4 separate regions of the Homo sapiens genome follow, and all the other regions are reported to be linked to region 1. The links are microRNA targets in miRTarBase. Many come from high-throughput screens and were not tested one by one. Region 1 holds a microRNA gene; each other region holds the end of a gene's coding sequence.

Region 1 (7,123 bases):
TGTTTTCATCAGTAAAATGAAAATTATAATAGTGTTACTGTGTGAAGTATATGAGTTCGTACTTGTAGAGTGCTTGGAAGAGTACCTTACACAAACTTCTGCTGTTATTGCTATTTTCAGATGGTAACCTATTTGTTGTAAATTTCCTGAAGGTACTTGTCAGTACGTTCGATAGAAGATTTGAAGCACTTCACTTGGTCTAGCAGTTCACTTAAATAGAGACTGATTAAATTGGGAGTATCAACAAGAAGCTTTTCCCCTATGTTTTCATCTAGTATTAACGTTTCAGGTCTTGCATTTAATTCTTTTATCCATTTTGAGTTGATTTTTATGTGTGGTGTAAGATATGGGTCCAAATTCATTATTTTCTATGTGGATATCCAGTTTTCCCAACCCCAGTTGTTGAAGAGAATGTCCATTCCCATTGTGTGTTCTTGGCAGCCTTGTAGAAAATCAGTTGAGCATATTGTACATGCATGGATTATTTCTGTGCTCTCTATACTGTTCCAGTGGTCTATATGTCTGTCTTTATGCTAGCATGATATTGTTTTAATTACTGTAAATATTTATAAGATATTTTGAAATCAGAAGGTGTGACGTTTCCAGTTTTGTTCTTGCCAATTAAACCTCAGTCAAACTTGAGGAAAAAAATAGGATCAACAAGATAAGAATGAGTTCTGCCACTGTGAGTTGAAATGAATTCTAAACTCTGATTATGCATTAAAATTACCTGGGAGAAGCCGGGTGCGGTGGCTCACACCTGTAATCCCAGCACTTTGGGAGGCCGAGGTGGGCAGATCACGAGGTCAGGAGATCGAGACCATCCTGGCTAACACGGTGAAACCCTGCCTCTACTAAAAATACAAAAAAATTAGCCGGGCGTGGTGGTGGGTGCCTGTAGCCCAGCTACTCGGGAGGCTGAGGCAGGAGAATGGTGTGAACCCAGGAGGCGGAGCTTGCAGTGAGCCAAGATCACGCCACTGCACTCCAGCCTGGGCGACAGAGCGAGACTCAGTCTCAAAAAATAAATAAATAAATAAATAAATAAATAAATAAATAACCTGCGGGGCTTTGAACACATTTTTTTTTTCAAGTGAGAGCAAGTTTATTAAGAAAGTAAAGGAATAAAAGAATGGCTACTCCATAGACAGAGCAGCCCCAAGAGCTTCTGGTTGTCTATTTTATGGTTATTTCTTGTTTATATGCCGAACTAGGGGTGGATTATTCATGAGTTTTCTGGGAGAGGGGTGGGTAATTCGGGGAACTTAGGGTTCCTCCCTTTTTTAGACCATATAGGGTAACTTCCTGACATTGCCATGGCATTTGTAAATTGTCATGGTGCTGGTAGGAGTGTCTTTTAGCATTCTAATGCATTATAATTAGCATATAACGAGCAGTGAGGACGACCAGAGGTCACTCTCGTTGCCATCTTGGTTTTGGTGGCTTTTGGCTGGCTCCTTTCTGCAGCCTATTTTATCAGCAAGACGTTTATGACCTGTATCTTGTGCCGACCTCCTATCTCATCCTGTGACTTAGAATGCCTAACATCCTGGGAATGCAGCCCAGTAGGTCTCAGCCTCACTTTACCCAGTCCCTATTCAAGATGGAGTCACTCTGGTTCAAACACCTCTGACATTTCCCCCCTCCCTTATACAAGGGAACGCTTAATCCTAAGGTTTGTAGAGGGAGGAAGGTCCATCTTCTGTAACTTCTTCAGGCTGAATAAAGACAATGATATTCCTACCTAACTATTAGGGTCTCTTGTATTCAGGGTAGAGAGGAGCTCAGTCAGAAACTGTCAGTATGGTGAAGGCCATTTGTAACTCCAACAAAAGGTAATATCTGGAAGATTAGTAAGTGTTCAGTTTAAGAAAACGTTGAGTAAGCTTATCCATCATTCCTACACAAAGAGTACAACAGCAAATATATTCCACAACAGTAAAGTAAAAAAAAGTAAATCCATCCCAAGTAAACTCAATAAGAAGGCTTTCCATGAACTGGGCAGCTGTTGGAACCAAGCTGATATGGAATTGCTATACATGCTATACATTCCAATACATGCCCAGAATTAGAATACTGATCCAGATTATTACATTAACCATCCCTCTTGTTTCTTCTGATCAGCAGCCAGAGATCACTGGTTGGTTCACAGGAATAAGCAGAGTTAGTCTAACTTGCAGAAAAAAACTCAAAAACAACTGATGAGACTATAATTGAGTAACAGGTATATCATAGTTTTTGAAACATATTTTTCTCTCTCCAGTATCCCATTTTTATGAAAGACAAATCATAGTAAGACTGATTTGCTTTATTATACTTGGCCTGATTATTTGTGTAAAGTGCAGCAAGAATAATTGTTTTTATATAGGCCTTTAAAATTGGCTTTGATGGAACTTTGTTCCATAAAAGGAATCTCAGATAAGAGTTTTTTTAAAGCTGAGCACAGTCATGGGTTTGTACCCTCAAATACCTATGAGTTGAGTAAATTCCTCTCCTCTTGAGATCCCAAGATAACAAGGGGCTCCTAGGCCTGTTAGAAAGTGACATTCTTTACTTACCACAGGTCAGGAACCCTGTACAGGGACTGTGCAGACAAGATAGGAGGCCAGTTTTCCCAAGGGGCTTTTATTGGCTCTATGCCCCACCCAAGCTGGCAATTCAGGATCTCTGGGAGTGGCCCTGGCTTCCTAGGTGATTCCAATGTGCAGCTCTAGAAGTCACTGCCTCACAGGAAGGTGTGATGGTCTTAGCACTTAATATGGTTCAGCTGTGTCCCTGTATGAATCCGTTCTCACGCTGCTAATAAAGATATACCTGAAACTGGGTAATTGATAAAAGAAAGAGGTTTAATGGACTCACATGGCTGGGGAGGACTCACAATCATGGTGGAAGATGAAGGAAGAGCAAAGGGACTTCCTACATGGCAGCAGGAAAGAGAGCATGTGCAGGGGAACTCCCCTTTATAAAACCATCAGATTTCATAAGACATTCACCATCACAAGAACAGCATGGGAAAGTCTTGCCCCCATGATTCAATTACCTCCCACTGGGTTCATCCCATGATACATGGGAATTATGGGAGCTATAATTCAAGATGGGATTTGGGTAGGGCACAGCCAAACCCTATCAGTCCCCACTCAAATCTCACGTTAAATTGTAATCCCTATGTAATCCCCATGTCAAGGAAGAGACCAGGTGGAAGTAACTGAACCATGGGGGTGGTTTCCACAATACTGTTTGTGATAGTGAGTGAGTTCTCATTAGATCTGATGGTTTTATAAGAGTTTGGCATGTCCTCCTTTGTTCATTCTCCTTCCTGCCACCTTGTGAAGAAGGTGCCTTGCTTCCCCTTCACCTTCTGTCATGATTGTAAGTTTCCTGAGGCATCCCCAACCATGCTGAACTGTGAGTCAATTAAACCTCTTTCCTTTATAGTCTCAGGCAGTTCTTTATAGCAGTGTGAAAATGGACTAATACAGCACTGAAGGATGAGTGGGATTTTATTAGGCAGATGTGTTGGTAATAACTCTTTGATCTAGGTGGTACAGATTCTTTTATCTTCATGTTTTTTGATTAAGAATCTAGGTTTCCAGACACTTAGCTCACACAGTAGCAGAGCAGGCTTTCTAAAATCAGGTCCAATGGTCTTTCCAGGACTCCAGGCTGTCAAAGCCAGGAAGGATTGAAGCAATTAATAAAAATTCATATAAATCTGCTCTGTCTTTTCAAAGTAGAAGTAGTCACAAAATGTTTTGTGTGAATTTTGAAATGAAATAAAACATCAACCTTTTTATGTAGATAAGATTTACATTCATATTTTCCTCCATAATGAGAAATGTTTTATGTTATCTGGATTGCAATTATAAGCTATATAAAAAGAGGGTTTTTTCTTTCAGTAAGTGTCTTATAGCATAAATATGATAAGAATTTGACAGATTTGCTGTTTTTTTCAAATTTATGCTAGCAATTCTCAGTAAAAAACATTTCTATCTTTCCACTGTTATTTTACCTAATGCATAAGGAATATAGTAAATAATATCATATGTGAAATCCAGCTAGAGCAGTAGCATACAAATTGAATAACTTGATGGTCTACTGAAACAGCCTCTTGCCACCCCCATATTACACACACACACACACACACACACACACACATACACACTATCTAAACATAAAAAACTCTAGCTAACTGAACTGGAGCAATAAAAATTAAGTAAAATAGAGATTACCTCAGAAGTGCATCCAAATCATACTGCAAGAATACTAAATGTGATTATTTTAGATGTTTTTTCTTCTTTAGATGTTTATAGACAGGAAATAGTGCATTTTTCTCCAACAACCCACAATATCAAGGCTTACTTGAGTGCATTAAAATAAGTAATTTTTTGTGGCAATATAATAGTGGGAAATCCAGCTTTTTTTCTTGAATTTAAAAATAACGATTTTTTTTTCTTTTTTCTTTTCTGCTCCTCTCAACCCAGCTTTTCCTGACTCCAAGAAGAACTGGGAAGAGAAGGCTTATTGATACATTTGAAGACATTTCAGAAGTAGAATTACAACTTTAGAAAGGCTAAAAGTTCCCACTTGCTTAAAGGTGATAAGAGCTGGTTAGCTTTACAAGGGCTCTAAGAACACAGTGAATATACAGACTTTAATGTGAAAAATGGCTACAAGTAATTGACTGGAGAATCCCAATTTCCAGTGGCAGCAGTCTGAAAATAAGCTGTCCACAGGGCCACACTCCCTTTAGGGCAGGGGTCCCTAACCCCTGGGCCACAGACCAGTGGTGAGCAGTGGGCCTGTGAGCATTACCACCTGAGCTCCACCTCCTGTCAGATTAGCATCCACATGAGAGTCTCATAGGAGCACCAACCCTATTGTGAGCTGTACATGCAAGAGATGTAGGCTGCATGCTCCTTACGATAATCTACCTAAAGCCTGATGATCTGATGTGGAACAGTTTAATCCCAAAACCGCCCCCCAACAACACCTCCCTGAGTACGTGGAAAAATTGTCTTGCATGAAACAGGTCCCTGGTGCCAAAAAGGTTGAGGATTGCTGCTTTAGAGGCTCTAGAAAAGAGTTTGTTCCCTGCCTCTCCCAGCTTTTGGTGGCTCCAAGAATTCCTTGATTTGTGGTAGCATCAATCCAATCTTGCCTCCGTCTTCACATCACCTTCTCCTCTATGTGTTTGTCTCTTCTCTTCTGTTTCTTATAAGGACACGTGTTATCAGTTTTGGGGTCCACCTGGATAATCTAGGATAATCTCATTTTGAGATCCTTACCTTAATTACATCTACAAAACCCTTTCCTCAAATAAAGCAACATTCACATATTCCAGGTATTTGGATGCGGACATATCTTTTGGGTTGGGGTCCCTATTCAACCCACCATGGTTTGTTTCAGTGGAATTAGGGCTGTACCATCTGCTCAAAAACATTAAAACAATTAGGAGGAGCATGAGTGTACCTCAATATCTTATTTGCAAAATGAAGATAGGGACATAGTTTGGTTAGCTAAGGTACGGTGTTTGGCTAAAATGCCATGTTTAACCAGTCAGCATCCACATCTTTAAGGTTTGCTTGTACCCGGTATAATCTCGTTTCTTGAAAACCGAGTAAGTGAAAAATTGGAGGTGAGGGCATAATAGAAACCATATAAAATAGAAAATATATACAAGTTTCTTTCTTTATTTCACTTGTTAGTAGTTCAGAACTTCATAAACACAAATATTACCACTAGCAAGCAGACATCCCCCAAACTCAAAAGTAAAGCATCGACAGATGTGTCTGGCTAGTTGGGTGAGACCATTTCCAAATACTACTTGTAAGTTACTGAGTTGGTTAAGGATCAAATGAGGTTCTGCATTTGAGGTTCTTTTTAAATTGTGTGGTATCATACAAGTGTAAAATATTGCAGTTGCTCTTTTGAAGGGGATAAGAATAAGTGTGATATCATAGATGAACACTATCAAAAAAATTTTTCAGTAAGTAGAAGTTAAAGACATTTTTGTTCGACACACCAAGCATGCTTGCACCTAGTTGGGGTGGTCATTGGGGTTTAGTGTCTGATTATAGATCAATCTAGCAGGTTATTTCCCTCTTCAAGAATGAATTGGGTTTGCATTAGAGATAATCTCCTTGTGCAGAAGTAGGTGAGTCAAGAGGAATTCCTTTCTTGCTTTATTAATTTATTTAGTTATTTATTTAGCTGATACTGATTCATTTGGGATGTAAAGATAGATGAAAATCTTAGAGAAAATGATTACACAATGAGGGAATTTGAGATCCTAGGGAAATAATAATCTGTCAGCAAGATTAAAAATCACTTTTAAGAAAGTGCATCTCATATTTGAGACATATAGTTGCAAAGATTCAGTAGAAAAAAAAATTCATCGCCAATATAATAACAGAGTTAAATGCCATAGAATAGTGGCTTTCCAACTTTTAAAAATCAAACCCCAATTTTTCCCTCAATTAATCTTACCTGGAAGCCCAATACATAAAAGAGACTAAAATGCAGCTGCTCTGGTTGTACTCTATGAAGCTGAGGGCGCGGATGAGGGCCACAATGGACTTGTCGGGGAACTTGCCACAGTTACAATTGTTTATTTCTTGTGTGATTCTTTGATCAATAGCTGTATTCTCCACCAGAGAAGACACCACTCCAGGCTGGGACTTTGATTTTGCTCTCGATTACATCTTTAGTGGCTAACACAGTGCCTGGCACTCAGTATATACTTGTGTTAATGAATGAATGAATGATGGAGAAGACAAAAAAAAAAGTGAATTGAAACAAGCTGGTCAGGCTGATGTCTGACACATCTCAGATGGCAGTGTTAATCTTTTTTCATCATCCTAGCATTTGTCACCAGTACTGGCAGCCAGAGAGAACATTGCATTTTGGTGCCTGGTGTAGTTCCTAGCACACAGTAGATTTTGGTAAATTAAATAAGTGATACTCAGTACATATTAGTTGACCAAATGAATAAGGTGCTAAATGATTGAATAAATGAATGACTGTGTTGTGATAGAATGAGGACAAGTGATTCAATTTTCTGTCTTAAAATAATTTTAAAAATAAACCCCAAACTCCGTGAAGGATCCTAATGAAAGCCTCCTAG
Region 2 (7,123 bases), not on the chromosome of region 1:
CCCAGGAGGATAGTGCAGAGGACACATCAGGGGCAGAAATGACATCGGGTGTTAGCAGATCCTTTAGGCACATTCGACTAGGTCCTACAGAAACGGAAACCTCTGAACACATTGCCATCCGTGGACCCGTGTCCAGAACATTTGTGCTTGCTGGTTCAGCGGACTCCCCTGAGCTAGGCAAGTTAGCAGACAGCAGCAGAACGCTAAGGCACATTGCACCAGGGCCCAAAGAAACTTCGTTTACCTTTCAGATGGATGTGAGTAACGTAGAGGCGATCCGCAGCCGGACACAGGAAGCGGGAGCTCTCGGTGTGTCTGACCGTGGTTCCTGGAGAGACGCGGACAGTAGGAATGACCAGGCAGTTGGTGTGAGCTTTAAGGCCTCTGCTGGGGAAGGAGACCAGGCCCACAGAGAACAGGGCAAGGAGCAGGCCATGTTTGATAAGAAGGTGCAGCTCCAGAGAATGGTAGACCAAAGGTCGGTGATTTCAGATGAAAAGAAAGTTGCCCTCCTCTATCTAGACAATGAGGAGGAGGAGAATGATGGGCATTGGTTTTAATAAGCAGAAACATTTTGTTTTAATGGCAGCCTGTTGGCGACGTGCCAACATCCAAAGGCCTTAACTTATTTTAAGAGGCCGAGGGAGTCTATGAAAATCTCCCCTTTTTTACTTTTTTAAAGAGTACTCCCGGCATGGTCAATTTCCTTTATAGTTAATCCGTAAAGGTTTCCAGTTAATTCATGCCTTAAAAGGCACTGCAATTTTATTTTTGAGTTGGGACTTTTACAAAACACTTTTTTCCCTGGAGTCTTCTCTCCACTTCTGGAGATGAATTTCTATGTTTTGCACCTGGTCACAGACATGGCTTGCATCTGTTTGAAACTACAATTAATTATAGATGTCAAAACATTAACCAGATTAAAGTAATATATTTAAGAGTAAATTTTGCTTGCATGTGCTAATATGAAATAACAGACTAACATTTTAGGGGAAAAATAAATACAATTTAGACTCTAAAAAGTCTTTTCAAAAAGAAATGGGAAATAGGCAGACTGTTTATGTTAAAAAAATTCTTGCTAAATGATTTCATCTTTAGGAAAAAATTACTTGCCATATAGAGCTAAATTCATCTTAAGACTTGAATGAATTGCTTTCTATGTACAGAACTTTAAACAATATAGTATTTATGGCGAGGACAGCTGTAGTCTGTTGTGATATTTCACATTCTATTTGCACAGGTTCCCTGGCACTGGTAGGGTAGATGATTATTGGGAATCGCTTACAGTACCATTTCATTTTTTGGCACTAGGTCATTAAGTAGCACACAGTCTGAATGCCCTTTTCTGGAGTGGCCAGTTCCTATCAGACTGTGCAGACTTGCGCTTCTCTGCACCTTATCCCTTAGCACCCAAACATTTAATTTCACTGGTGGGAGGTAGACCTTGAAGACAATGAAGAGAATGCCGATACTCAGACTGCAGCTGGACCGGCAAGCTGGCTGTGTACAGGAAAATTGGAAGCACACAGTGGACTGTGCCTCTTAAAGATGCCTTTCCCAACCCTCCATTCATGGGATGCAGGTCTTTCTGAGCTCAAGGGTGAAAGATGAATACAATAACAACCATGAACCCACCTCACGGAAGCTTTTTTTGCACTTTGAACAGAAGTCATTGCAGTTGGGGTGTTTTGTCCAGGGAAACAGTTTATTAAATAGAAGGATGTTTTGGGGAAGGAACTGGATATCTCTCCTGCAGCCCAGCACCGAGATACCCAGGACGGGCCTGGGGGGCGAGAAAGGCCCCCATGCTCATGGGCCGCGGAGTGTGGACCTGTAGATAGGCACCACCGAGTTTAAGATACTGGGATGAGCATGCTTCATTGGATTCATTTTATTTTACACGTCAGTATTGTTTTAAAGTTTCTGTCTGTAAAGTGTAGCATCATATATAAAAAGAGTTTCGCTAGCAGCGCATTTTTTTTAGTTCAGGCTAGCTTCTTTCACATAATGCTGTCTCAGCTGTATTTCCAGTAACACAGCATCATCGCACTGACTGTGGCGCACTGGGGAATAACAGTCTGAGCTAGCACCACCCTCAGCCAGGCTACAACGACAGCACTGGAGGGTCTTCCCTCTCAGATTCACCTGGAGGCCCTCAGACCCCCAGGGTGCACGTCTCCCCAGGTCCTGGGAGTGGCTACCGCAGGTAGTTTCTGGAGAGCACGTTTTCTTCATTGATAAGTGGAGGAGAAATGCAGCACAGCTTTCAAGATACTATTTTAAAAACACCATGAATCAGATAGGGAAAGAAAGTTGATTGGAATAGCAAGTTTAAACCTTTGTTGTCCATCTGCCAAATGAACTAGTGATTGTCAGACTGGTATGGAGGTGACTGCTTTGTAAGGTTTTGTCGTTTCTAATACAGACAGAGATGTGCTGATTTTGTTTTAGCTGTAACAGGTAATGGTTTTTGGATAGATGATTGACTGGTGAGAATTTGGTCAAGGTGACAGCCTCCTGTCTGATGACAGGACAGACTGGTGGTGAGGAGTCTAAGTGGGCTCAGTTTGATGTCAGTGTCTGGGCTCATGACTTGTAAATGGAAGCTGATGTGAACAGGTAATTAATATTATGACCCACTTCTATTTACTTTGGGAAATATCTTGGATCTTAATTATCATCTGCAAGTTTCAAGAAGTATTCTGCCAAAAGTATTTACAAGTATGGACTCATGAGCTATTGTTGGTTGCTAAATGTGAATCACGCGGGAGTGAGTGTGCCCTTCACACTGTGACATTGTGACATTGTGACAAGCTCCATGTCCTTTAAAATCAGTCACTCTGCACACAAGAGAAATCAACTTCGTGGTTGGATGGGGCCGGAACACAACCAGTCTTTTTGTATTTATTGTTACTGAGACAAAACAGTACTCACTGAGTGTTTTTCAGTTTCCTACTGGTGGTTTTGATATTGTTTGTTTAAGATGTATATTTAGAATGACATCATCTAAGAAGCTGATTTTGCTAAACTCCTGTTCCCTACAATGGGAAATGTCACAAGAATGTGCAAAAATAAAAATCTGAGGAAAAAACCCACATTGTTCCTAAAGAGAATGAATATTTTCAGTAGATTTTGATGTTTCCTTTAAACTCTAAGTAAAGAATCTGTGTGTTTACATGCATGTTTTTAGGGTAGCAGAGAATTACTGGGCAGAATATATATGAAAAGTTCCAGTTCTCTAATTCCTCACCTGAATCGGAACTCAATATTGGGAGCACAGAGCTAGAAAGCCTGGCAGACAGAGCATAAGCCAATTGGCTTGTAATCAAATATACACTGGACAATTTGTGGTAAAAATGTCATCATCACAGCCTGAATGACTAGTGGCAGTAGGACACCACCAACCATCCCATTTGGGATGGAGAGGTTTCTTGGGATGTGGTACTTTGAGTGCTAAAACCAGGACTGTCCTGGGCATACCAGGACAGTTGGTTACCTTATAAGTGCAAATTGGAGGGTTAACCCTAAGGCATGGCCATTTCTTAGGGGCTTGAAAAAACTGAGGTAGTTTGAGACAAAGGAATAGCTAGATATCTTTACCCGTTTGTAACCTTGTAGCCCTTTACCAAAAATAGAAAAACACAAGTAGCTATAGTCTTCCTCTCGTTGAAGTCAACAGAATTAACAGATGGGAGACATTGGAGGGAACATTCCTAAATTCATTGCTTCCTGGGGTGGGGTGGGGTGGGGGCGCTAAATTTTAAAAATGTGTTTTAGTTTTTGTGATTCCAAGCTACGCTTCAAGAAGTACAGAAAGGAAGAAGTAACATCAGAATTCACATTTATTTCAAAAACTCGGCATGGACTCTCAGTTCAGGCTGCTGTAACAGAAAGCCGTAGCCTGAAAGGCTTAAACAACAAACATTTATTTCTTACAGTTCTGGAAGCTGGGAAGTCTCAAGGTGCCAACAGTTTCATTTCCTGGTGAGGGCTCTCTTCCGGGCCTGCAGACGGCTGTCTTCTCACTGTGTCCTCACATGGTGGAGAGAGAGATCATCTCTCTGGTGTCTCTCCTTATAAAGCACTAATCCCATTCATCAGGGCTCCACCCTCATAACCTAATCACCTCTCCAAGACCCCACCCCCAATACCATCCCTTTGGGGATTAGGGCTTCAACGTGAATTGGGAGCATATGAACATTCACCCCTTAGCTGACTCCACCCATGTCAACTAGATAGGACACACGGTGAGTAGTGACATCTTACACGTTTTTAGCACACTGCTGATGTCCGACAGGCCTGGGTCTGGGACCAGTGTGTACCAGCAAGCATGGTCTGTGGGGTCAGCTGTCACGCTCCTGAGGAAGACAATGGTCCCTGCTTCTCTCCACCCTGTCGTGGCTCTACTGAGTTTATTTTCCCCATCAATACTGGAGGTGGTGCCCTGCACAAATGGCCCCAGGGTGGTTTTGATGTCCCACTGGGGGCTGGAGGGGAGGGCCCTGTGCTGCAATCTGCTGTCATAGCACCAGCCTGCAGCCTCATGGCCACAGTCTGTGGGACCAGGGGAGGGAGGGGAAGGGACATCACTGCCCACACCTGCACCCCTACCCCTGGGTGTTCCATCCACCTCGATCTGGCACTGGATCTCCTCGTTGACATCGTGGAGGAAGGCACTCAAAGCTTCCTGTTCGACTTTGCCATCCTCACACGACTATGGCCTCCTTCCAGGGGGCTGAAGACTGCTGTGTACACGATAGTGTGCCAACTCAGGAAGCAGCTCCAGGTGGCATCCAGGTTTGTCCTGCCTGCAGTGGAGGCCACAGGAGGGATGCGAAGCAGCAGGGAGTCTGCGGTCTTCCCCCCGCAGCCTCCGGCTAGCCTTTCTTTTCACTCCCTTACACCTGCCTCCTGGGCCCCAGGCCAAGTCAGGTGTGTCGGCCTCCTGCCCCTCCTACTGGGCTCTTTCTCAAACCCCTTTTCAGGCTCCGAAGAACTCTGAGGCAGGCTGCACTTTGAAAACACATGCTGACAGCAGCGTGTTCAGGTTTCCCTTTATTAGCGTTTTCTTCTCATGTTATTCTCAATCCCTATTAGCCTCCTATAAGAAAGGACTTCCTGAAGTTCACTGTCCAGATCTAACTCCACACCTATGCAAGGAGCTGTGTGTACAAGCAGATGCCGGGCTGACTCCTGCACAGGGCGCACTGAACTGTTGAAGAGAAGTTTTTCAGCCACAGTAGTGCTGATGGGTAAAAATTCTTGTTGGCAAGAAAAACCACTTAGGTGATAGAAAACTGCTTTATAGCATATATCACCCTGAAGGGCATCCACTGTCAAAATGTGGCCCACGGGAGGCTTATGGTCTCACTGTTGCATGTTGGGGCCAACAGTTGGCCTTGGAAATCTGTATCCTGACTGTTGAATTCCATTTTCTAGGCGGAGGTGATTTGTACAGCACCCTAAATGACAGTGCCCAGGAATGTCCTAGGCTTTTTCAGGGTGGGGGCCTCAGTCTGCTGTTGTGCCGGGCCGGGCCTTCCCCAGCAGGGTGTCCTGAGGGATGCTGGTGCAGAAGGCCACTTTGGCTTTTGATGCCTGCCTTGGCTTCGAAGCAACCTTGGGGGCCCTGCAGACAAGCAGAGGGTGGGGTGAGTGTGGTGCCCCTCAGCCCCCCACACCGTTCCCATCCAGCCTTTGCTGCCCAGCAGGTGCCCAGACCCATTTATGAGAAGACTTGGTAGGGGCTATAAATGAGAGGAGAATTGTAGCACAGAGCATAAAACATGAGATGTTTTCCTCCCATCTTTTATTTTTTTAATTTTTTTTTTTTCAGACAGAGTCTCACTCTGTCACCCAGGCTGGAGTGCAGTGGCCCCATCTCGGCTCCCTGCAACTTCCGCCTCCCAGGTTCAAGCAACTCTCATGCCTCAGTCTCCCGAGTAGCCAGGATTACAGGCACATGCCACCACGCCCAGCTAATTTTTGTATTTTTAGTAGAGACGAAGTTTTGCCATGTTGGCCAGTCTGGTCTCAAACTCCTGGCCTCAAGTGATCCACCGCCTCGGCCTCCCAAGGTGCTGGGATTATAGGCATGAGTCACCTCGCCTGGCCCCTCCCATCTTTTAAAATCACCTGTGACCATCCTCACTGAGCTGAGGCCCTCAACCCTTAGCTGGCTTGGTGAGCAGGACATGGGTGAGGAGGATGGTCAGGGTTGCACTGGAGGCCTCCCTGGCTCGCCTTCCCTGCCCTCAAAGGGGATGGCGCCCTGCTGGCCAGGTTGTGTCTGCTCCGGGCTGTGGCCCTGTTTCCCTGAGCAGACTCAGGCAGCCCTGGGGCTGCTCTCTGCGGACCAGGCTCTGTGAGGTAGGCCCTCCACGGCAGAGCGCTGGGCCTCTGCTCGGGCTGAGAAAGGACGTAGGGGCCAGCCTTTAAGGTCAGTCAGTGAACCTTCCGGCTCCAGTCCTGACGGGCATCCGAGGGCAGAGGGAAGCCGGAAGCAGGGCTGCAGGAGGCCACAGGGATTCCCGGGGCCCTCCCCCTGCAGCAGGTGCCTTAGCCTGCAGGGGCTGGTCTGCAGGAAGACAACATCCAGCATATATTTCTGACTTAAAGGATGAATTATTTTTAAATACCTGGGCAAGGAAGATCTTTTACAACTCGGGTTTCAAAGGAACTTGTCCTTTATGCAAGTTATGGGAAGTCAGCAAAACATTCCAGAGAAGGTTACACAGAACCTTCTAGAACCAGCTTTCTCTTGAGATTCTGAATGGAAAGGGAATGAGATAGAGAAAGTGTGAGGGACGCCAACTCACGTGGACAGCATGCCCATGGCCTGCTGGGTGGCCAGAGTCCTTTTGTCCTGCGGTCCATATAAGAGGGTCTGGATCTGGAGACACTGTAGAACACCAAGCAGCTATCATGAGGCTATGGAAGTGTCGCTGAGAGCAGGAAACTAAGGTCTCCCTTGAATGAGAGAAAGATGACCTCATTCTTAGGCCCTGCTGTGATGGAATTAGCATGCTCCTGGGATGTCTCCTAGTGACTGACCTTTGGTTTGGATGTTCTGAGGGATCTAGGCAAAAGTGAACAGTTTTAGCACTATTTCACAAAACTCTCT
Region 3 (7,123 bases), not on the chromosome of region 1:
TTAATGTCACTCACATGAAACAAAGAGGGTTTCTTCAAGGGTCCAGGATACTAAGAACCCAAGTCTATCAATTCTCTAATACACCACTGGATGTGTCCATGAAAACACCTCAGCAACAATAATGTGCCTAGAGCCCTTTGCATATCTGTAACAGCTCCTGTGTTGTTCTGCAATCCTGTTCACATGCTGGCTCTGAGTTCCTGGAGTTCTCTTTCATCTCTCTATTGTCCAGTACCTAGCACAGGTCCTGGCAGAGTAAGTGCTCAACAAATATTTGCTGGCTGACTTTCAGCCACATACTCTGATGGAAGCCTTCACTTAGGTCTCTGGATTTAAGCCTCTATATATACGCCCAGCTTAGTTTGGAGACTTACTTAGAGTGATTAAACACACAAACACATACAAATGTTTAAATCAGGAGAGACCCAAAATATTTTATTTCCCATGCAGAACACTTGCCCAAAGATTAAAAGAGGAGAAATAAGAATATCCTCTAAGCTGTGAAGAATGCAAATGCTTACATCAACAAATAATTCTATATAATAGCTAAATGTCACTAAAATATTGAAAAATCAACCTATAGTGTCAAAAAAATGTTAGCTCTTTGATTATTACCACGAGAGGGGCAGCAGACCAGCAGTTCACCACTCTCTGTGATTTGGAATTTCTTTGGAATAGGTTATCTTGAGGAGCGGATGGTTACCTAGGTAAGCAAGATATAAGTACAGAAAGGAAGGGCGAAAACATGAGGCAAACAATTCAGAACGTTTTCTTTTCATCTTTTTTTATTTTAAATTACAAAGGATGTTGCATACACTGATGAATCTGTATCTGACTAGAAGTGCTCAGGGGTTGGAAGGTGACAGAAAACAAAGGCAAAATTTGCATTGCCTTTCCATCTGAAATGAAAAACTGCACAACTATTAACCAACATTTAATAGGATAATTTTTAAACAGCTCATGCGTCAACAAGATAAAGTTCTTTCTAGACAAGAGACAAGACTGAATCCAATAAAAAGTGTCATAGCTCCAGTTGGGAGAGAAAAAAAAAAAACTACAGAATATTTATGATAGCATTACAAACAGGATCCTACGCAACTATGCAAAAGAGGTTGCCACATTGTATGAACAAATGCTTTGAATTCTTGCCCTTCCACTCTTCTCTTGTGACTTCTGTGCTGTCAGCCCTAGTATCGCTGTCAACCACAATACTAAGCTGTAGGACAAATCCTAGGGAAAGAAGGTAAAAAAGCAGGCAGTGGAATACAGTGTCATAAAAATGTGGTGGAAAGGCAGATACAGTACACACATACACATTTCTGTTATTTGGTTCTGAAAAAAACAAAGGGCGAAGGGCAAGACATAGTAATCAGTCCTGCTCCTATCCACCCAGAATTTAATTAACTACACCATTGTGTTTACATTGTTATGAAAGAGGCAAACCGAACCTAGTTCACCCAAACTTGGCACATTGAAATACCCAACTTTGATGTTCTTCACTAGTTACCAAGTCTTCAATTCCAAAATACTGTTTGGAAGTAGTTTTAAGGCTCTGTCCCCTCACTACTACCTCCAAAACTCTCTAAACAAAAATGGCAATTTGGCCTAGCTCAGTTCCTAGGTGTAATTTCTACGATTTCAGTCAGTTTATTAAGCATGAGGACTATGCTTCAACACATAATCCCATTTGCCTATGGAAGTGTATAACTTTCAGTAGTACATTTTCATCATCTTTCCCCAACATGCTTATTCCTTAAAACGAAACCACCATTCCTACAGTTGACATTCATTGTTACATCCCAATGTGTTTGAAGTATTAAAAAAACATGGAGTCGTCTTCTCATAATGCCCTTATTAAGATTACAAAGATTACAAAAGAATCCACAAGTATTACGGCACTGTGTGAGACTTATTTGTCATGATCCAAGGGAAGAACAAGACTGCAGTTCTGTGCAAAGTTGTGGAAATGGCCTCAGTTCCATGGGAAATGGTATTCCACAACAGACTTCACTAGAAGGATAATTGAAACCTTTTACTTTAACACTGAAAGCATAATTCAATGCATTCTCAAAATTCAAGTTTCAAGATATGGAGAGATGCTAACATTCTGTTACATAATTAACTAGAAAATACTTGAACAGAATTTTAGGAAACTATATAAAGAAAGGGAACATAAGTTTTTGTTAATTCTTGCTGAAGGCAACTTGAATTCATTTCTTATAACATTAAATCTTAGCAGCTAAATTTTTTTAAATGTGTGGAATAAAGAAAAGCACATCCATTCTTGACATTTTGGTGAATAAACTAACAGCTTTATTAATGAAGGCAAACATCAGATCATTGTATGAATATTATATATATATATAAAAAGAAATCCAAACTAACAGCATTGTATTTCAAAAGTACTGTACTTCTGTTTCTTTTAAAGAGACTTGTCATCTGTTTTTATAAAACAAAATGGGTACTCTTCTCCTAAAAAATCCTGGAAAAATGAAATAGTCAATTTCAAGCTGATGAATTGAACACACCTTTCTTTAAATGCAGACTATTGCTAGGAAGCAAATAAAGTCAAGCATCAGAAAGAAGATGTATGAGAAATGCATGAAAGTCAGAGAAAAGGGATGTAGTGAAATTACTGCTAATCTTTCCCCCCTATATTCAAAGACCATCCAAAACTGGTCTTTCATACAAATATAAAATAACTATAAAGAGAGGGAATTTGAAACCATACCCATCTGAAATCCTTCATGATGCTTTTGTAATAGTTCTGATTCTCTTACCAAAAAGGTCAAAGTTAAAGATGTAGGAAGTGGAAGGGAATGAAGACGTTTAGTTTTAAATGTACAAGTAAGGCACAATATAAAGCCACATCATAATCTGTCATGAAGGATATAGGAAAGGACAAGAATCATACATGGTACAGTAGAACAAGCAATTATATTGACTGGAAAAGTGTGGCACCCAATTCAAAACTCAGACAAGATCTTAACAAGAGCGACTGGACAGCATGCTTTCATATGGAGACAAACTCTATAAAGAATCCAGTGTATCTGAAACTAGGAAAAAAGGTTTTTGTTGGTTTTTTTTTTTTTTAAATCATAGTAGTACTAGAGTCAAAGTTTATAATTGCTTTGGAACAATGGGTTTACTTGAGGTGAATTCACAATGCCTTCACTTAAAAGTAAGATTCTGGACTTCATTATGAGCTATCTGTATACCATGTATGAACACAGAAAACCTTTAGAGAACTCTTCTCTAATGATCTTCACCCAAAAATACATGCCACAATTTTCAAAAACAGAACATGTACAATTGTTGGGGTTTTTACATTACCCTTATAAGATTGGTTTGTGTGATACACTAAACGTATATATTTTAATGACAATAGAGGAAGCAGATTATTACTGGCATTAAAGTACAACCATTTCTAGACGGTTTTAAATGCCACAGAGTCCCCTGGTTAAAATGTAAAGCTGCACAGCTTGCCTATGTCATCTTTATGATAAAGTTAAAACAGCAAGAGGATTTAACTTTCACTCTACATTTTACTGCCAGGTTTTTATATAGATCAAGTATCGCTGCAGCATTCTGACCAGCCCAGATTTAGCAGCAAATGGCAGGAATCATATAAAATGCAATTTTTTTTTAACAAAGTGCTTTTCTAAGATATACATACATATATAAATAGGTACAAAATAAAGTGTCAACATTAAAAAGCTCAACTATTTAAAAGCTTTTAACTATTTAACTTAAGTAGTACATATAAAACACTGAAACTCAAAGATATGGAATCTACTAAACAGATTCAAAGTCTTTTTTTTTTTGAAATGCAAGACCAAAAAATCAAATTCTGGTTTGCAGACAGGAAAAAAGTATCAAAAACCAGAATTCCTAACAGAGCAGCTAGAAAGGGGCAATTTTATAAACCTTATCAGCTGAATATCATGAGGTGATTTTCACCTGATTGCAAAACTGCCATAGTTTGAAACACTTTTCAATTTACCAGACACACTCTGTCAAGACTTCATATACTTCCAACTTGCAAGCCTGTGTTTTGCCTTCTCCAACCTAAAAAGGAAAAGCTTTAAACGATGAACTTACATTCTATTAAACCATCAGACTTGAGCTTATCATCTGTTTAGCGTGAATGTACAAACCAGGTACATTTCCACCAAACACATAGAAAAATCTTGTGCATCACAGTTCAGCTAAGGTGGTAAGACAATCCTTACAATCCTCCTTGGATTTCTTTTTTAAGATGTCAAAGAAGCAGGTAAGCAACATTGTTCATTTGTTACTGGGTGTTCTAGATCAAACCTTCACAAGCTATATATATAGCTTCATATGCTATAGCTTACAAATGGGGTAACAAAGTAAAAGAAAAGAACAAATTATACTTTGACACTTTATAGTCAAAGTATAATTAAAAAAGAAATCCTACAGTGGGTAATGGAGAAATAGATAATTTTTCCAGCAGCTATGCCTGAAATTTTTGGTATTTTTTTCCTTGCTAAATATGCTTTTTTTCTTTTTTTAGTTTTTAAGCCACCAGTTTTCAGAGTTCAAAGCACAAGATTTGAGAATAAAACAGTAAGAGAGACAGGATGGAAAAATCTGTGGGGGAAGGTTTATAATGCTGCCTTGACATAAGAAATTTCTCATCAAGAGGTAAAGCTTGAACACAGTTAAAACACTGACTAATGAAGCTGTTTTATATGAGCAAAAAAGAGCACCTAAAAACTAAATGTGTTAATGTTTCTCAATTCTAGAAACTATAGAAGAATAAGTCACATGTTAAGTTTGAAGAAGCTAGTTTGAAAATACCTGTACAAAAATATAAAAATCTATAAATTGTTTTTGTTTTAGCCTGTGTTGATCTTTGAAAATATTACATGCACAATAATACATCAATCGGAAAAGTGGCAACTAAAGAATTAGATATTTTTAGCTTTTTTCTTTCTTTACATATATATATATACATAATACAATAAAAATAATCTATTTTGTTGTCTGGTGGAAGTATACTACAATAAGCTAAATAAACATTTTAATTTTCAAAGTCAAAAACTATTTTATCAATAGCTTACTAAAATGAAATATATTAAAATTTCCTACAATAAGTGCAGAAATAAAAGACATCTAAATGGCCACCAACTTATCTACTATGGAAGCGAACTAGAGGAACAGCAAAATAATATTTGTATGTATGGATGCTCCTTCTGTAGATAATTGGACCCAAACAGAAATAAAATTCACAGTTCAGTAAGATCCCTAACCCTGACCTTTTTTTTTCTTTTTTTTCTCCTTTTTTTTCATACATTCATACAGTATCATGTAAGCTGTGCAAAACTTTACTTAGACTGGCAGTTTGCCATATCAGTTGCATTTGTCTTTGGTACAAAAAATAAAACAATCGCAATAATGTGCAAGTATTTGTCTTCTTCCGGTCAAGTACCGAAATATGAGTTTTCTAGAGCCATCTTTTTTTTGTTGTTTTTTGTTTTGTTTTTTATACAATACACAGACTCTGTGGCATATATCTACATTTCAACATAGTCCTATATACATTCAAAAAATCTGAAAAAGAGTTGGAACAAAAAAACATTTAAACCCCATAATTTTTCCATCTATATATCTTGTTTTTTCTCATTAGGGTTTTCATCATACAAAATATTACCAGTTTTAGAGTTTCCCCAAAATACAAGGCACAAAGAATATGCTTTTTTTTTCTTACTTGCACAGACATTTGTGTGTGTGTGTGTATATATATATATATATATATATATTTATATATATCATCTTGAGCTCTGACAATGAACATCTAATATGGCCCACAGGCACAAGTGCTGGGTGTGCCATATACAAGTGAGATTAATGGTTGTGGAAAATTAGAACAAAAAGCAATAATTCTAAAAACAATTTAAACCGACTGTTTAAAAAAATGCTTCCTCAATTTTTTTGTGTGGTTCAGAGCATAAATCTGCCACAATACTTGGCATTTTACTATTTCACTCCTCCAAAATGTTTTGCTTTAACAGATTTTTGTAATCTGTACCTAACATTTACTTAAACATATGATTTTCAATTCTGATGCCAGTAGCAGTTTTAATCATGGTTTATGCTCTGAAAATGCAATAATCAAGTATTTTGGATCATGCTTCACTTATGCTACTTAGTTCTTAAAACAATGTAACCTAATTGTAAATGTTTACATAATGCTAACTGACATGCAAAACAGAATGAAAATTTACAATGGATAACGTGACAAAACGCAGACATTTCTGACCAGTGGTCCAATGAGGCTGATTACACCTTTGATGTTGGTATCCTTAATCCTACAAGGCCTCCAGTGGGATTCCCTTCTGCAGTCTTCTCTAACACTTGGTTAACAAATTCTGAGGTTTGCCCAGCAACTGGTAGACCTGAAGAGAAGAATAAAAGGCACATCTAGACACAAAAATGGAAGGCCATGAAGGGAAGGGAAGGAGCTGGTAAAAACTGAGGTTCAGGTGTGGCCCTCAGCTTGATACTGGTCCCAAATGAATTCCCTGGCACTTGTTATTGCAGCTCAGAAAACAATGCTACCCTTCATATTACTGTCTAAAATTTTAAGATTAGAAAAGTCAAACCAAGGATAGCCATGAAAAATCATAAACCAACATTTAAAGTGAGGTAGATGACAAGTGTAACAGTCCAAATAACAGTCCAAACCCAAACCCAAAGGCTGCCGACAGGCACTGCTTCCCACGCCCTGGTTTTTCCCTGTTCTCTCAGCCAGTCTCTTCCAATTACTCTAAACTCACCAAGTTCCATGGGTAGGTTTCACCCATGAAACTGAAAATATAGACCTGAAGGATGTTTTGGGTCATTTTTATAATTACTGGATACAGTTTAAGTTTCCTTTTCTTCATTTAAAAAAGTGAATGAACGAATAAGAAATGTTGGAAGAGAAGAGGGAGAAAGGTGGGAGCAGCATAAGTATGTAGATTTTCTCATCTTCCTCATCTTCCATAGTAAGACCAAAAGATAAAATCACTAAATCAAATAACAGAGGTATAAGTACATTTTTTTAAGTATTAAGAAAAATAAAAAGGATGGAAATAGAAATATATTTGTCAGCTAG
Region 4 (7,123 bases), not on the chromosome of region 1:
CAACACCTGAATTTTGGGGAGGACACATTCAAACCATAGCAGAGTCATAATGTTGCAACCTATTTTCAAGTAATTCAGCCAAAAAGCTGGGGGGGGGGGGGAATATCTGTAGGCCGAGCACAATGGCTCATGCCTGTAATCCCAGCACTTTGGGAGGCAGAGGTGGGAGGATTGCTTGAACCCAGGAGTTTGAGACCAGCTTGGGCAAAATAGTGAGATCTCATCTCTACAAAGAAAAATTTTTTTGGCCTGACGTGGTGGCGTACGCCTGTAATCCCAGCACTTTGGGAAGCCGAGGCAGGTGAATCACCTAAGGTCAGGAGTTCGAGACCAGGCTGAACAACATGGCAAATCCCCATCTTCACTAAAAATACCAAATTAGCTAGGCATGGTGGCGCATGCCTGTAATCCCAGCTACGGGAGGCTGAGGCAGGAGAATCACTTGAACCCGGGAGTTGGAGGTTGCAGTGAGCCAAGATTTCACCATCATACTCCAGCCTGGACAAGAGCGAAACTCCATCTCAAAGGAAAAAAGAAAAAAAAGATCTCATATCCAAATTTCTCAAGGCCCAACTCAAACACCACCTATTTTATAAACTTTTTTTTTTAAGATGTCTCACTCTGTCGTCCAGGCTGGAGTGCAGTGGCATGATCTCAGCTCACTGCAACCTCCACATCTCAGGTTCAAGTGATTCTCCTGCCTCAGCCTCTGGAGTAGCTGGGACTACAGGTGCCCACCATGCCCGGCTAATTTTTGTGTTTCTAGTAGAGATGGGGTTTCGCCATGTTTGCCAGGCTGGTCTCAAATTCCTCACCTCAGGTGATCTGCCTGCCTTGACCTCCCAAAGTGTTGGGATTACAGGCGTGAGCCACCACGCCCAGCTCTATAAACTTTCTATGATCTCAAAGCCTCCAAGATTCTTCTCCAGACCCTAATGGTATTCCACCTTCACGACCCCTCATGGCTCCTACTTCTCCACCTTCTCTGCTGCATCAGACCATAAGCTCCTTAAAGGCAGTGACCATGTGTTTACCAGTTATACTTTACAAAGAACCTACCAAGATTATGTTTGCAACAAATACAGTTGTCCCTCAGTATCCACAAATTCAACTGGTAGTGGATCAAAAATACCGGATTCAAGAGATGCAGAACATGGCCTACTGTGGGACTTGAGCATCTGCAGGTTTTGGTATCCACCAGGGTCCTGGAACCAACCCCTCCAGATACCAAGGGACAACTGTATTTGTAAAATATTTTTATTTATTTATTTTTTTGAGACATAGTGTTGCTCTGTCGCCCAGGCCAGGCTGGAGTGCAGTGGCAAGATCTCGGCTCACTGCAACCTCCACCTCCAGGGCTCAAGCTGGGATTACAGGTGTGTGCCACCACACCCAGCTGATTTTTGTATTTTTAGTAGATGGGGTTTCACCATGTTGGCCAGGCTGGTCTCGAACTCCAGGCCTCAAGTGATCCATCTGCTTCAGTCTCCCAAAGTGCTGGGATTACAGACATGAGCCACCACGCCTGGCCAATATTTTTATTTTTTAATAAGACAAGGTCTCTTTCTGTTGCCCAGGCCGGAGCGCAGTGGTGCAATCATGGCTCACTGCAGCCTTGACCTCCAGGGCTCAGGCAATCCTCCTGCTTCAGCCTCCAGAGTACATGGGTCCAGAGGTGTGCACCACCACACTCAGCTAACTAAAAAAAAAAAAAAATTATTTGTAGAGATGGAGTCTCCCTTTGTTGCTGAGGCTGGTCTTAAACTCCTGGACTCAAGCAGTCCTCCTCCTCAGCCTCCCAAAGTGTTGGGATTACAGGCATGAGCTACTGCACCCAGCCCATTATACTTTCCTTTGTTTAAACACATTAAAACAGTTATGTTGGCCAGGCATGATGGCTCACGGCTGTAATCCCAGCACTTTGGGAAATGGAAACCGAGGTGGGTCCAGCCTGGGCAACATAGTGAGACCTTGTCTTTACAAAAAAAAAAAGGGTCAAGCGCAGTGGCTCACGACTGTAATCCCAGCACTTTGGGAGGCTGAGGTGGGTGGATAACGAGATTGGGAGTTCGAGAACAGCCTGGCTAAGGTGGTGAAACGTCGTCTGTACTAAAAATACAAAAATTAGCCAGGCACAGTGGCAGGCACCTGTTATCCCGGCTACTCAGGAGGCCGAGGCAGGAGAATTGCTTGAACCTGGGAGGCGGAGGTTGCAGTGAGCCAAGATCACGCCACTGCACTCTAGCCTGGGTGACAGAGAACACTCTGTCTCAGAAAAAAAATACGTATTTTGTGTACCACATACAATCACATTATCTGTAAAATTCATTTGACAATTTGATTTTATATGTCTCTTTTTTTGAGACTCCCTCTGTCGCCCAGGCTAGAGTGCAGTGTCATGATCACGGCTCACGACAGCCTTGACCTCCTGGGCTCAAGAGATCCGCCCACCTCAGCCGTCGAGCAGGGGATGCTACAGGCATGCACCAACATGCCCAGCTAATTTTTGTTTTTGTTTTAGAGATGAGGTTTCACCATGTTGCCCAGGCTGGTCTCGAACTTCTGGGCTCAAGCGATCTTCCCAAAGTGCTGGGATTACAGGCATGAGCCACTGTACCTGGCTGTTACATTTTTAAAAGATTATTACTTATTTTTTTAGAGACAGAGTTTCACCCTGTCGCCCGGGCTGGAGTGTAATGGCGCAATCGGGCTCCCTGCAACCTCCGCCTCCCAGGTTCAAGAGATTCTTGTACCTCAGCCTCCCAAGTAGCTGGGATTACAGACATGTGCCAGAACGCCCGGCTAATTTTTTGTATCTTTGGTAGAGATGGGGGTTTCACCACGCTGGTCAGGCTGATCTCGAACTCATGACCTCGTGATCCGCCCGCCTCAGCCTCCCAAAGTGCTGGGATTACAGGTGTGAGCCACCACGCCCGGCCTACATTTTTGTATTTGTTAATGAGACAGGGTCTTGCCATGTTGCCCAGGCTCGTCTTAACTCCCAGGCTCAGGCAATCTTCCTGCCTTAGCCTTCCAAAGTGCTGGGATTACAGGCCACTGTGCCCAGCCCTATATATATAAAAATATTTATATATATATATATATTTTGAGATGGAGTCTTGCTCTGTCGCCCAGGCTGGAGTGCAGTGGCGTGATCTCAGCTCACCGCAAGCTCCGCCTCCTGGGTTCACACCATTCTCTTGCCTCAGCCTCCCGAGTAGCTGGGATTACAGGCGTGAGCCACCGTGCCCAGCCCCAGCCCTATTTATATTTTGTAAGAAAAGATAAAACAGGGGCCGGGTGCGGTGGCTCATGCCTGTAATCACAGCACTTTGGGAGGCCGAGGCGGGCAGATCATGAGGTCAGGAGATCGAGACCATCCTGGCTAACACAGTGAAACCCCGTCTCTACTAAAAATACAAAAAATTAGCTGGGCGTGGTGGCAGGCGCCTGTAGTCCCAGCTACTCGGGAGGCTGAGGCAGGAGAATGGTGTGAACCCGGGTGGCGGAGCTTGCGGTGAGCCGAGATCCCGCCACTGCCAGCCTGGGTGACAGAGCGAGACTCCGTCTCAAAAAAAACAAAAACAAAACATAGAACAGTAGAACTTGTATTATAGTCTCATCCATGACACCTGGAGCCCCTGTGAGAAATGAGGGGAATCACTCCGGGAAATAAACAGATCTGTGGCTGCCAGGGCCCGAGGGGAGGGGAAGAAATGGTGAATGATGCTAACTGGACATGAGGTTTCCATTTGGGATAATAAAAAAGTTCGGAGCTGGACTGTGAGGACTGCCCAGCACTGTGAATGTACTCAGTACTCAGTACCACTGAAATGCACACTTCACAATGGTGACAAAAGTAACTCTTGGCCAGGTGCAGTGGCTCACACATGTAATCCCAGCACTTTGGGAGCCTAAGGGGTTCGAAACCAGCCTGGCCAACATGGTGAAACCCCACCTCTACTAAAATTACAAAAATTAGTCAGACGTGGTGGTGCACGTCTGTAATCCCAGCTACTTGGGAGGCAGAGGTTGCAGTGAGTTGAGAACACACCACTGTACTCCAGCCTGCTGGGTGACAGAGTGAGACTCTGTCTCAAAAAACAAACAAACAAAAACCTTTTATGTTACGTGTATTTTACCACAAGGGGGGAAAAAAAGAACTCATGAATCCCTCCGAACTACATGGACCTGTGGAAAACACATCCATGGGCTGCATTTGGTGTACACAGGGATGGAATTTGGTTTTGTTTTTTGAGATGGAGTCTCGCTCCGTCACCCAGGCTGGAGCGCAGTGGCGCAGTCTTGGCTCACTGCAACCTCCACCTCCCAGGTTCGAGCAATGCTCGTCTCAGCCTCCCAAGTAGCTGGGACTAAAGGCGCCTGCCACCATGCCTGGCTAATTTTTGTATTTTTAGTAGAGATGGGGTCTCATTTTGCTGGTCAGGCTGGTCTTGAACTCCTGAGCTCAGATGATCCACCCACCTCAGCCTCCCAAAGTGCTAAGATTACAGGCGGGAGCCACTGCGCCTGGCCTGGTTTTTATGTTTTAATTTAAAAATATTGTTTAGATAGAGATAGGGTCTTGCTGTGTTGCCCAGGCTGGTCTCAAACTCCTAGCCTCAAGTGATCCTCCTGCCTCGGCCTCCCAAAGTGCTGGGATAAGAAGTATGAGCCACCACGCCCAGCGAGAAGCATAATTTGAACTACGTGACAGCTTCAAAGGGAGGCTAGAAATCACTGTCATGAAGTCCACACTGTGGGAGTGAAAGGATGGGCAGGCCCAGCCCACAGTGACCCCACAAGCACTCAGCCACCACCCCCACCCCGGCCCGCAACCTTCAAGAAGGAAGCACTCAGATACCAACAGGACATATTTCAAATAGTTTAATTTTAAAAATATTCTATTCAGTGCTAAAATATGTCTTCACTCACTGTTGCCCATTTCCATTTTCTTAAACTTTTTTGAAACAAAAAATAAAATCACAAAGTTCAATTCAACATGCAGATTTCAAAGAAAAGGGAGCTTTCTAGAAACTGAGCTGAAGGGGTACTGTGGGGGATGGGTACTGTTGTCAGAACCTCAAATTCTTGCTGGGGCAGTTTGTGACAAGAGGCAGGGATGCTGGAATGACAGGTAGAGGTGAGAACAAAGCTGCGTGTGTGCAGATGTGTGTGCTGAGGGCAGGGGATGGGGACGGCGGCCACAAAGGGCTGTCAGCAGCTAGGGTGCCCGTGAGAGGTAGGACCACCTCAGGCATGGGCAGAGCTGGCAGGACAGCAAGAAATCTAGACGGACTCTCTGCCCTTGTGTGGAGAAAAGCCCTTCCCTTCCCTCCAATGTCTCTACCCAGTCCTCCAACAGCAGCCTACAGGGCCCCCAGTCCTAGGGGAAAGTCCGGGAGTCTACAGTCTCCGTTCAAGTTCAAGTAACCTGAGGCACGCTCTCTTCTAGAAGGTGCCTTCCACATCTCTCTCTTCTCGCAGAAGCTGCCAGCAGCTCCGTCCAGAGATTCTGGAGCAGAGACTGCTGCCTGGAGGTCACAGATGAATCTTGGGGTGGCCGATGCTCCAGCCAACTTGGGGTGCAAAAAAGACATGAGCGCTCCTCTTCTCGGGAGCAAGTAGACACAGGTGCCAGGGTCAGGAAGATGATGCTACAGCCCCAAGTCCTACGCCAGCCTTCCAGCCCGGAAGGCTCATGTGTGCAGGCTCTTGACCCCAGTGCTTGCCCTTACCCCAGCAACGCGGCGCGGCCAGAACCAGAATGCAATAAATAGAGGCAGGGCCAGGAGGCGGAGGGCCGGGATGGTGCTAGCTTTCTGACGCCGTCTGCGGCACTGTGGGTTGGTCCACACAGAAGCGCTTCAGGGGCGGGGCACCTGAGTCTTCCTCTTCCTCAACGACCTAGGAGCAGGCAGAGCATGGAATGCCAGGGCCACCCCTCCCAACCAGAACCTTCCCACCCACCCGAATTATAATGGGATGTCCACTCTGCTCCTTCCAGCAGATGATCAAACATCCTCCCCTGCCTACAACCCTGGGACTCATTTCCGGCGCTGCAGATCCAACCCCACATCCACAGTCTTTCCTGGTTTTTTGACTTAGAAACTGGGAAGCCTGGCCGGGCACAGTGGCTCACACCTATAATCCCAGCACATTGGGAGGCTGAGATGGGTGGATCACTTGGGCTCAGGAGTTCGAGACTAGCCTGGCCAACATAGTGAAACCCCATCTCTACTAAAAATACAAAAATTAGCCAGGTGTGGTAGTGGGCGCCTGTAATCCCAGCTACTCAGGAGGCTGAAACAGGAGAATTGCTTGAACCCAGGAGGCAGTGGAGGTTGTAGTGAGCCAGGATCGCACCACTGCACTCTAGTCTGGGCAACAGCGAGACCCTGCCTTAAACCAAAAAAACAAAAAACTGGAAAACTCAAAGTGATTGCTTACCTGTGTCTCTAGTGGAACTGGTTCTTCCTTGGTGAGGGTAGGAGGTTCATCAGCAACTTCCGAGGAGGGCAGGGAGGGCTCTGAAAAGGCAGTAGGGTCGGCCTGAGGGCAGGGCTCCCCTGAGGCCTGGACCTGGGGGAGCTTCCTTAGAGCTGTGTGGAGGTGGCTTGGTGAGGAGGGGAGAATACTGGCCTGAGAAGCAAACATTCATTCAGGGCCCAGCTGGACCAGGTCACAGCCAAGAATGGTGGAAGGGCAAAATACGGCTAGACTGCAGAGGGCCATCTCTGCTGGGCTGGAGATATCTGGAACCGACAAAGCAGCTCATCTTGTCATCCTCTAGCCCAAACATCACAACTCTAACTCAATCTCCCAGTTTTCTGAGAGTTGCTATGAGGACGAGATGAAGTAATAAAACACAGGAGCTAAGAACAGCACATGCCAAATAGTAAGAACACAATAAATATTAACTACAATTGGCATTTCCCATGGAGAAACAAGTTCCATTTTGTAGTTGGCTGTTAACAGGTCACAGCACAGGAGAAGGTAACAAGGGCCTAAGACACATCTATATATCCATATTATAACAAGAAACCTGGGTCGGGCATGGTGGCTCACACCTATAATCCCAGCTACTCTGGAGGCTGAGGTGGGAGGATCACTTGAAGCCCAG

What was found. The annotated mature microRNA hsa-miR-320d reads AAAAGCUGGGUUGAGAGGA and lies in region 1 at 4,468-4,486, opposite strand. An mRNA with a match to its seed (bases 2 to 7 or 8) in the 3' UTR can be bound and repressed. Matches are read on the target gene's strand: a 7mer-m8 pairs with bases 2 to 8, a 7mer-A1 pairs with bases 2 to 7 and ends in A, and an 8mer does both.
Region 2: the mRNA of SYNM is a reported target of hsa-miR-320d. Seed matches in the 3' UTR shown: 7mer-m8 at 2,261-2,267.
Region 3: miRTarBase lists CREBRF as a target of hsa-miR-320d. Seed matches in the 3' UTR shown: 7mer-A1 at 4,670-4,676 and 8mer at 3,469-3,476.
Region 4: miRTarBase lists BCL7B as a target of hsa-miR-320d. Seed matches in the 3' UTR shown: 7mer-m8 at 5,152-5,158.

The regions. Positions count from the first base shown.
Region 1 is chrX:140,921,705-140,928,827 of GRCh38, forward strand. It overlaps MIR320D2 (microRNA 320d-2), which reads right to left and starts at 4,527; the gene lies at 4,456-4,527.
Region 2 is chr15:99,132,499-99,139,621 of GRCh38, forward strand. It overlaps SYNM (synemin), which reads left to right. Exons shown (of 4, transcript NM_145728.3): 4 at 1-3,095. The coding sequence ends at 560. TTC23 (tetratricopeptide repeat domain 23) reads right to left here. Exons shown (of 14, transcript NM_001288615.3): 13 at 6,819-6,901; 14 at 3,825-5,629. The coding sequence ends at 5,512. TTC23-AS1 (TTC23 antisense RNA 1) reads left to right here and starts at 6,819. Exons shown (of 2, transcript NR_186223.1): 1 at 6,819-7,123. RefSeq lists an enhancer at 4,266-4,767.
Region 3 is chr5:173,132,929-173,140,051 of GRCh38, reverse strand. It overlaps CREBRF (CREB3 regulatory factor), which reads right to left. Exons shown (of 9, transcript NM_153607.3): 9 at 768-6,422. The coding sequence ends at 6,307. Among named protein-coding and RNA genes, the nearest start is that of BNIP1, 8.0 kb to the left of the region's middle.
Region 4 is chr7:73,531,484-73,538,606 of GRCh38, forward strand. It overlaps BCL7B (BAF chromatin remodeling complex subunit BCL7B), which reads right to left. Exons shown (of 6, transcript NM_001707.4): 5 at 6,451-6,530; 6 at 4,873-5,907. The coding sequence ends at 5,815. Among named protein-coding and RNA genes, the nearest start is that of BAZ1B, 13 kb to the left of the region's middle.